Regions from separate parts of the Homo sapiens genome. Here region 2 is linked to region 1. The links come from fine-mapping of genetic effects on plasma protein levels. A gene starts in region 1. The other region holds a variant in brackets. All regions are shown on one strand. Distances are between the middles of the regions.

Evidence for each region. A credible set is the group of variants that fine-mapping cannot tell apart. PIP is the chance, under the fine-mapping model, that this variant and not a neighbour inherited with it causes the effect. The UK Biobank Pharma Proteomics Project read protein levels with antibody pairs (Olink). The fine-mapping took linkage between variants from a reference panel, not from the people measured, so its PIPs are less certain.
Region 2: its variant is the best candidate, but not a certain one, in a credible set for the plasma level of the SEPTIN8 protein (UK Biobank, PIP 0.60).

The regions. Positions count from the first base shown.
Region 1 is chr5:132,774,867-132,780,243 of GRCh38, forward strand. It overlaps SEPTIN8 (septin 8), which reads right to left and starts at 2,373. Exons shown (of 10, transcript NM_001098811.2): 1 at 2,242-2,373. The coding sequence starts at 2,271. RefSeq lists silencers at 2,144-2,553, 2,644-2,693.
Region 2 is chr5:132,710,880-132,716,256 of GRCh38, forward strand. It overlaps KIF3A (kinesin family member 3A), which reads right to left. Exons shown (of 19, transcript NM_001300791.2): 7 at 5,366-5,377; 8 at 4,878-5,052; 9 at 80-178. Among named protein-coding and RNA genes, the nearest start is that of KIF3A, 24 kb to the right of the region's middle. The variant G/A (reference allele first, on the strand shown) is at 2,521.

The DNA of each region.
Region 1 (5,377 bases):
AGTGTGGCTCTGCCCATTTTACAGCAAGATAAAGGCAGAAATGATTTTCCCAAGATGACAAGCCAGGAAGGGTGAATGGAGTCCAGACTTAAATTCAGGCCAAACTCCACCCAAGGTCTCCACCCAAATCCAACCCTATCCAAGCCCTTCCAGGAGGCTGACAGCCCAAAGTGCAGAGGGTGTGGAAGGTGTCCATCCCTCCAGCTGAAGCTGGCATAGCAACCAAGGCCCTGCGCTCAGGCTCTACGCCCTTGCCTGAGTCAGTCCCCTCTCTGTGCCCTGGCCACCCCGCAGCTAATACCAAAACTCCTCACAGGAATGGTCCGAGAGCAAACACAGGACCCCAGGGGAAGGCTTGACCAGCCCACAGCATGGCCTCTCAGCTAACCCTCTGAGGACCATCTCTGGACGAGCAGGGATGGAAGCTCTACAGAGAGTGCCATGAACAGGGCAAATGCATCCTCTGCTCCCTTCTTACATAGGGGGCCAGTCCTCACATCCACGTGGACAATAGGTAGCATATATTATTTATTGTGTCCTTACCATGTGCCAGACACAGGGCTAAGTACCTCCCCTGGATTCTCTTGTTGAATCCTCACAATACCCCTATGAGGGAAGAAATATTTCTATCCCATTATACGCATGAGAGCACCAAGGGGTTAAATAACCTGCCCAAGGTCACATGGCCAACAAGGAGTGTCTAGGATTCCTATCAGGCTGTCTGATTCTGGTTTCTCTACATACCTCTCCCACCTGCAACATCAACTGTTAAACCTCTGGCCACAGACAAGACCCAGACATAACTTTCTGGTCAGCTGGGCACAGAAAATGCACACAGACACACATGCAGAGACACCCAGGCACTCACGGGTCTCTTGGCCTCCAGCTAATCAGCAGGTCTGTTAGGATTCAGGCACTGCCCTCCTCCGGTACATAAATTCCAATTTATAATACGGGGCGAAGTGAATCTCTGAGTAGCCCAGCCTCTGAATCTGTTCCTCATGTATTTAAACTTACTTAACTGACATACGACCCCCTCTCCAATGGGAATAAAACACCCGAGTCTAGAAATTATGAAACCAAGAGCTCCTGCTTTAGTCATGCACATTTCCAAAGTAGAATAAGAAATGTATTTTCAGATTAAATGGAAAATTTACATATATAAATTGGGATGACGGTATTTATAGCATTAATTACATAAGTCCTGGCTCCCTTATTTAGCCCCAGAACCAATTCGTTATCGTTCACATATTCAGAATTCCCCCTTCCCTCCAACAGCCCTGGGCCTCCCTCCTCCTCCTCCTCCTTCTCCCCCTCCTCCCCCTTCCAGCCGACCAGGGCCTTACATGCTGGCAAGAGGACACAGCTTCCTTCACTGTCACAGCCTAGCCTCCCAGACACACCCAGATCCAGCCTTAGACAGCAGGGGATGTCCAGATACAACCCCCCAAAGGCCTCCCTCCCGCGAGTGAATTATGAAAGCCTTTAGTAAGTTGGCTGTCGGCAGGCTCAGGCCCAGTGAGACCCCTGCAGGGACCACCAGGGACATCAACCTTCTGAGGACCTGGACTGGAGCCCAAATAAACGCCCACTGGGCTGAGTCTGGAATCCCTCCAGCTCCTGGCGAATGGCTGCCGCAGACCCGACCACTGAGGCCTGACCTGCCTGGAGTCGCACCCAGGATTCCGGCGTGGGGAGCGGGGCAGAGGGGAGCGGGGGAGGAAGGAAAAGCAGGCCAAGGGTCTTCAGGACTCAAGTCTGCAACTGTCCTGGGCTCGTGTGGGAGACTCTCTCGGATCCTGGGGCCTCCATCCTCCCCGGCTGTACCTATCCCGCAGCACCTGTGCGGCTAGGACTCTTCCCCAAGTGTGCAGAAAGAAACACCCTGGGCGATAGGGTCCGGAGTGTCCCGGACCCTCACCTGCGGCCCCGCGGGCGCCACTCTATCTTCGCACCTGCCCGGAGCCAGGCGGGTCTTTGCTCCTTCCCGCGAAAGGGGTTAGCCTTGCCTGCGCCCCAGGAAGCGACCCCGACCAGCCGCCCGGCAAGGCAGGCCGCCCGACGCTCCGGGACCCCCCGATAGCGCGGCCGAGAGCCCGCGCCGGGGTCCTCGAGCTGGCCCGGTGTCGAGGCCCGGCCGTGAGGCGCTGACAGCCCGCTTCGCGCCCCCCGCCAGCTGCAGGGCGGCCCCTCCTGCGCCCCGCGCCTCCCGCGCGCGCCGTGGCCCAGCGGGGCCCTCACCGAGAAGCGCTCCAGGTCGGTGGCCGCCATGGCGAGCTCCGCACCGGGCGGGTGGGCTGGGACGAGCGCAGGGGCAGCGACAGGGACCAGCCGGCTGCGGGACGCGCTCCGCCCGGGCGGCTGCGGCTGAATGGATCCAATATGGCCACTTCCTGGAAACTCCCCTTGGCGGCGGCGGCGGGAGAAGCCGCGGAGCCGCCCCTGCCCCCGCCCGCGGGACCGGCCTCCCCGCCCGGCCCGGCCACGAGCGCAGCCGGAGCCCCGCCGCTTGGACGGCCGGGGGTCTCCGCGGCGAGGCGGGAGGTGCCAGCTGCGGGGACTGCTGGGACTTGTAGTCCGCGCGTTGGGGGACCGGGACGGCAGTGTCGGGGGGCTCGGGGCTGGTGCCCGGCGGGCCTCTGCGTGTCCCCTGGAGCCTGGGGCCGAGCCTAGGTGAGAGTCTCCTGGGTCCGCGCGCTGGAAAGCCTTTCCCGTAAGGGGGAAGTGGGGCACGGCGTGCGCCCTAGAGATCTCCCCCACCAAGCCGTCTCCACCCGCTGGAGCCTGCAAATGTGCTGGGACCACCAACCAGAGTGTGGACAAGCTGCGGGAGACCCGTCGGATCCGGGAGAGGCCGCGGCAGCCTAGTCTGCGGGTGTCTTGGGCCCCACCTGATGCTCCGGCCGGAGCTAAGGCGGGAACCCCGGCGGGACCCGCGCGTCCGGCCAGGCGGCCTTCCCGGGCAAGGGACCAGCCTTCGGCTCCTTGTGCAACCAACGAGCAGGATGCGCAGTTTAGGCTGGGATTCCTGCAATAGAAAAGCGGAGCTCGACGGTCAAGGCGTCAGATTGCAAGTGTCCATCACCCTGCCTGTCCCAAGGGCTTGGGACAACGTCTTAATGGTTCCACCATTGTGCAAAGAGGATGACCACTCCCAGTGCGTGCACGTTCTCTCCGCTAATGTCACTGCTCAAAACGTTCAGAAAATTAACACTTACGCCAGGGTCGGAGGCCTCAGGAGGTTCTGTATCCTTCTCACTGACAATCTATACAAAAGCAGCTCCCAAATCCTCTGAAACCCCGTTTCTTTCTCTTCCCTCTGCCTTTCTCTCTGCTCTTTCTGGGAATGTGGCAAGGTTTGCCCCCTACCCCCCACTGGCCTCATCCCAGGTTGGTCCACCCTCCACACACACCCCTCACCCCAGTATGCTGAGAAGCAACCTGACCTGTTTCTCCTACTCAGAAACTTGTGCTGACTGGAGGTGCCTAAAGACCACGTTCGACTTAGCACACCTGGCTTAAGAGGAGCCCCCTCTCTGCTGTTTGACCTTGTCACCCTGATTTGGCTTTCCCCTCCTCACTCTCCCAGGCAAACTGTAGCTTGTCCCCAAGGTGGACTGACTTCCCGCTGGACCTTCCTGACAATGTTTTCACTTTGCTCCTCTCTCTATGTTGCTGTTTCCCATGCTGTATTAAAGTTATCTACAAGAAATAGAGCAGAGCAGTGGTTAGGGTAGCTGGATCTATGGCAAACCTTCCTGGTGGAATCCTGCTAGCTTTTTAACCTTAGCTAGGCAAGTTACTTAACTATGCCTCCCTTCCCTGGTCCTAAAAATGAGAACAAGTATAGCACCTATGTTACAGGATTAAATAACATAAGTAAAGGGCTTTAAGTTGTACTTAAAATATAATATTAAATAAAATCTCCCTCTCTAGACTACAAGGGCCTTAATCTCAGAGCCCAGAGAATGTGTGGTCAATACTGAATTGATCATCCTAGACTGTATCTACTGTTTCCTTTTTCTTTCCCTATAACTAACAAGAAATCACGACCAACTGCCATCCGTATGGCAGTTCTGCATTACAACTCTCTGGGACTAGCCCTAAATTATCTTCAAAATGGTCTTTTATCTCTAATCGGAAATATTTCAAAACATGTACTTCTTACAGTCCTGGCCAGTGGCTATGAGAAGGAAAAGCTCAGAGTACAGGTGACTTCCTTCTTTTGGGATATATTCACTCTGCTCTGTAGGAGTAAACAGGAGAATTTCCTCCTATTCCACAATGCCGAAATTTCTCTCATTTTATGCTGCTGCTGGTCAGAACTTATAAAAGAGTGAGAATTATCTATGAGGGCTCAAAAGGTGAATATAACGATCATTTCTCACATGGCAAAGTGTTATTTCTTATGGCAGCATTTCTGAGTGTTTCGTATACACCTAGAGGTTAGTTCATAGATTTTACCACAAAAAGATTGGTCTCACCGTCAAATAACTGGGGAATGCTGAGTTCCATACACAGACAGGGTTCTGTAGAAGTCCTCAGCTTTTGATCAGCTAATATGCATTTTCTGTGCAAAAGAAAGGGGAATATACAGCTCTACCCACACTTTGTTGCCCCTTGTCTCTACCCTGCATACATACCCAGCACCACACTGAACTTGAACATGACAAGACTTCGCTTCAGGAAATGCTGCCCTCCAGGCCTCTTGCTTGTCTTTTACTTTTGTTTATACTTTCTTTTGTCATGTAGAAGTTTAAATTTTTGATGTTGTCAAGTGTACTTGTTATTTTATTTATTATTTTTACTTTGGCTTCTAAAAATAAAGACCCTTCCCTAACTTCACAAAGATATTGTGTTTGTGAGAAAAGAATAAATTTTCTTTAAAAACTTTTTTTTAACTCCTTCACATCTAGGCAATTTGTGTATGTGTATGCCAAACCAGTTGTTTCATCTTTCCCCTCTGATGTACAATGCAAATGGTATCACAGACGACATTTCTGTATGTGTGTGCAGGTTGTGCATCAGTTAGGATTATGTTCAGCTGCTTCAACAAGATAGAAATGTCTTCCTTTCTTACATTGTCCAGGTAGGTAGTCCAGGGCTTATGTGACTCTCTACGCACACTTTCTTCTTGTTGCTTGGCCTTACGTGGTCTTGCTCTCATGGTCCAATATGGTGATATCTGCATTCCAGGCAGCAAGAGGCAATGATAGTAATACAGTGCAAATGAGCCAACTCTCAGAGGATTCCAGAAGCTGCCATGTGGCACTTCTGCTTACATGCTATTGGCCAGAGCTGGAAAATGGGGTCTTTATTCTGGCTATCATGTGCACAGCTAAAAAGTCCATAAAATGTTAGAGGAGAGCAGATGTTG
Region 2 (5,377 bases), 64 kb before region 1:
GGCAAAATAAAAGTCATGCACTCTACCACCTTGTGAAACCACCTAATTTCTACAAATCAGATTACTAAACAGAACTTACCCCTTCTTTTTTTCCTTTTCTCTCCATCTTCTCCAACCTCACCCTCTTCATCATCATCTTCCTCTGACCCACTGATATCAGAGCCTGATATTTCTTCTCCTTGGACAGAAATTTAATACAATGTTTTTTATCCTGTACGAAGTCATTAGCTATTTAGGAAATACCTATATCAGCTTTCTTCCTCAGATTTTTGTTACTGCAAACAACAAATTTAAATACTATTTAAATGCTCCTAGAAAGTATAACAGATATGCCAATCTCAGACACAGATGAGATATCCAAAAAGACTTTATTTTTAAAGTCTCTAAAGAGAAGTTAAATTCTGACCCACTTAAAATTTCAAACCATTCTGGCTAGGCAAGGTGGCGCACGCCTGTAATCCCAGCACTTTAAGAGGCTGAGGCAGGCAGATCACTTGAGGCCAAGAGTTTGAGACCAGCCTGGCCAACATGGCAAAACCCCATCTCTACTAAAAATACAAAAATTAGCTGGGCTTGGTGGCATGCACCTGTAATCCCAGCTACTTGGGAGGCTGAGGCAGGAGAATCACTTGAACCCAGGAGGCAGAGGTTGCAGTGAGCCGAGATGGCACCACTGTACTCCAGCCTCAACAACAGAGTGACTCTGTCTCAAAAAAAAAAATAAAAATATTCAAATCATTTCTTTATGTATAATTTTAAATATATATATAAATTATGTGGTAGAGTTACTAATTCAGTCTTTTAAAAATGTGATCACTTTTGAGGAACAATTTCTTCTAAAACAGCTTCCTGTTTAAGATTTCAAATAATTCATTCAATCTGTATTTTTAAGAGACACAGAACTGTCATGTAACAATGATCCCACTTTTAGGACTGTATCACAAGATATTTTCAAAAAAAGAAGTGCTTATTTGTACAAAGACAGTGTTAACTACACATTAACTTAAAGATAAAAAACAAAAAAGGAATGATGAAGCCAATAAAACAGATCAGCACTATATCATCTTCAAATTAGCTATTTTTAAATGCCACTGTTTACATATGAAATGTCTAACAAAATAAAATAGAGGAGAAAAAAGTAAAATATACTCTAATCACAACCAGGTAATAATTGTACCTGTAAGTACAAGATGGAAAGGAACACAGAGTCTTGGGAGAAGAAATTTCTGAAAAATATTTTTTTCTTCGGGCTTAGAAACAATGACATCTTGGTAGTAATGAGCACAGCTAGTGCCCAAAACTGGGTTTCTAAATACCATTCTCCTACAGAAGGGACCAGAGAGAAGTGAATGATTCTAAGATTGGGCAAGGAAGACACAAGATAAACCTAAAACCTTTTGTAGTGCCAAAAAGTAATCAAATGCTCAAAAAAACTGATGAGCACATGCTGAAAGAATACAGGAACTACTCTGAAGGATCTCATAATAGCCAAAGCTGGAACAATTCAATGAACAAAATAAATAATGATAACACTGGATTATAATCCATGATCTAAATAAGATAAATACTTGAATAAATAAACAAATGGGAATGAAGGGGCTGTTCTTCCATACAATAGAATCCTAAACACTAAACAAGGAAGAAATGATGAGAATAGAAAATAACATTGAGCAAATGCCACAGGATTATTGTTGCAGACAAGAACTATTGATGAATACTAAAAATAGTAGAAGAAAGTATGACAAGAAACAGGACCTTTGCAGTCTCAAAGTATCCCCCACAAGATACATGTTAATTACGAATGGAAACATAAAACAATAGATTTGCAGTGGAGAAACTTTGCAGGGTCATTATAAAAGAAAAGTAGACAAACCCAAATTAATGAACATTCAACAAATATATGACCAGTACTCTTCAAAAATGTCAAGATCAAGAAAGACTGGGGAATTAGACTGAAGAACAAGTGTGCTAGACATCGTCATTAAAAAGGCATGACATGGCCGGGCATGGTGGCTCACGCCTGTAGTCCCAGCACTTTGAGATGCCGAGGCAGGCAGATCACGAGGTCAGAGGATAAAGACCATCCTGGCAAACATGGTGAAACCCTGTCTCTACTAAAAATACGAAAATTAGCTGGGCGAGGTGGCATGTGCCTGTAGTCCCAGCTACTCAGGAGGTTGAGGCAGGAGAATCGCTTGAACAGGGAGGCAGAGGTTGCAGTAAGCTGAGACTGTGCCACTGAATTCCAGCCTGGCAACAGAGCGAGACTCTGTCTCAAAACAAAAAACAAACAACAACAACAACAACAACAACAAAACAAAGAAAGCATGACAAATAAATGCAGTGTGTGATCCTGGATTGTATCCTGGACCAGGAAAAAGAGGCACTGGAAGGAAAACTGGCCAAATTTGAATAAAGTCCACAGATTAGTTAATAAGACTATATCAATGTAAATCTCCTGGTTTCAATAACTGTTGTATGCTTATAAAAAATGTTAACATGAGGTGAAGCTGGGTGAAG[G/A]GTAGATAGGAACTCTCCATATCATGTTTGCAAGTTGCATATAGCCTACAATAATTTTTAAGTTTAAAAATTATTATTTTAATGCTATTGCCTACTTTTTTATTGTTGATATGATCAACTCCATTAACTAGATTATAAAAAGAAATGTCATAAGAGCAAAAATGAACTGAAATGTATTAACAACAGTATTATCATAGAATCCAGCAATTCCATTGCTGGGTACATACCCCAAAAATGGTAAAACAAGAATTCAAACAGGTATTAGTATACCCACGTTCATAGCAGCATTATTCACAATAGCCAAAAGGTGGAAAGAACCAACTGTCCATTGGTGGATGAATGGATAACAAAATGTAGTATATACACAATGGAATGTTATTCAGAATTAAAAAGAAGTCCTGATACATTCTACAACACGGATGACCCTTGAAGGCATTATACTAAATGAAATAAGCCAGTCACAAAAAGACAAATGCTGTATTTCACTTTCTTTTTTTTTTTTTTTTTTTTTTTTGAGATGGGAGTCTCACTCTGCCACCCAGGCTGGAGTGCAGTGGCATAATCTCGGCTCATTGCCACCTCCACCTTCCAGGTTCAAGTGATCCTCCTGCCTCAGCCTCCCAAGTAGCTGGGATTACAGGCGAGAGCCACCATGCCCAGCTAATTTTTGTATTTTCAGTAAAGATGGGGTTTCACCGTGTTGGCCAGGCTGGTCTCGAACTCCTGACCTCAACTGATCCACCCGCCTCGGCCTCACAAAGTGCTGGGATTACAAGCGTGAGCCACTGCGCCCCACCAATTCCGCTTTCGTAAGATACCCAGAGCAGTCAAATTCATAGACAAAGCAGAATGGTTGTTGGCCAGGAACTAGGGGAAGGGAGGAATGGGTACATACTGTTTTTAATGAGTACAAAGTTTCAATTTTGCAAGAAGAAAACTGAAGACGGATAACTGCAGAACAATGTGAATGTAATGCCACAGAAATGTAGACTTAAATGTGATTAAAATGGTAAACTTTATGTTATGCAAGTTTAACCACAATTTTTTAAAAAGGAATAAAATTCAGGCACTTGCTACAATATGGATGAACCTTCAACGTTCTGTTAAGTGAAATAAGCCAGTCACAAGTAGATACTCCATGATTTTACTTATATGAGGTACCTAGAATAGTCAAATTCATAGAGACCGAAAGTAGAATAGTGGTTACCAGAGACTGGGGGAGAAAAGAATAGGAAGTTACTACTTAAATGGGCACAGCATTTCTGTTTGGGATGATGAAAAATTTCTAGAAATGAATAGTGGTGACAGTTGCACAACAATGCGAATATACTTGATGCCACTAACTGTACACTTAACTAACAATGGTTACAATGATAAATTTTATGTCATGTATATTTTACCACAACAAAAAAATGTAAAACATAAAGTCAGCAAAATAAAAGTATGCACTCACCGTTAACATCGCTAAGAAATTAAAAATCTTTAAAACATACTGGCTATAAATACCACCTAGTGGTCACATTTAAAACACCAAATTTCATTATCTAACAGTTCTCTTACTGCTTTTCCTCAATAACTACTTGTTTACTAAATAAGTACCCTCTCTAAACATTTGTGATGCTGGCGTCTCTGAATTTCACCTCTGATCTAGTCAGTCTTCTCACAGACTACAAAGGTGCTTTGAAACCAAAGCCCTGTTTACGTGGTTCGCGAAGGAGCTCTGTACCAATCAGAAAGGATCTGTTTCTCGCATTAAGGTGCAAGGACTCACTCAGCACTTAATGACTGGGAAGCGTCTCACTCTCATAAATAAGATCTTCAAATTTTCCAACTTTCTAGCATGATATTGTTAGAAAAGAATTTCCAAAATACAATCTCATGTTCAAATTTAGGTATGAAAGGATATTTTAAAGGTCATGCAATGCATTTTTCCTTATAGCAAACTTGGTTTACTCATGACTGTCTAATATCTTGCTTTACTTCAAACAATAGTTAGTTGATATTGATTGCAATGCCAGAATTCTGGTCATTTTCACCTAAATACATACATTGCAGAATTTGCTCTTATACAGAGACAAATAAACATTCATTCCTTAAAAAGTGGTCATATGAAATCTACAAAACATCATGCAAATGTTTTTAAAAAACCACATACACAAATATTATGTAATTTTACTTAAGCTTAATATGAAAATGCGAAAGTATGTAAGTACCAAGTCACTTTCTAGAAATATTCATTTAACTACCAATGTTAGAGGCTCAAAAAAGGTTTAATAGAGGGCTTTTGTTAGAACAGTTAGTGGTTCAACAATGTATTTTTAGCCAACATAAAGATTAATATTTTGAGGAAAAGCTACCTTCTTCAAGCTTCTTTTTCAGTTCTTCTATTTCTTTCTGGAACTGACGCAGCAAAGCATCCTTTGGATCTTCATTAATTCTAGCTTTATTTTTAATATTCTTAGCACGATTGGCATACCGTAATGTACTGATAGTTTCATCATAATTGTAATCTGCTGGCCCAATATTTGCACACTATTGAATTAGAAATATGAAACAAATCATTTTACACTTGACAGAGTTAAAATTAATACTACCATTACAAATACATCAAAAACATTTAAAGCACATATGCACCCTTGGCCTTCTCGAAAATGAGAGTGTCAACCACATGAGTTTCCAAAGGACACTATTATGGGCTAATACACGAGTGTACCACAAAAAGGACAACCACAAGTCAAAAAAAGTAAAATAATCAAGTTTAAAAAATGTGATACGTATCAATTATTGGCATAAATTACAATCTTAAATTTGCCTGATGTTAACTATATCACCAATTAAGTCTTACCATCATGGTTTT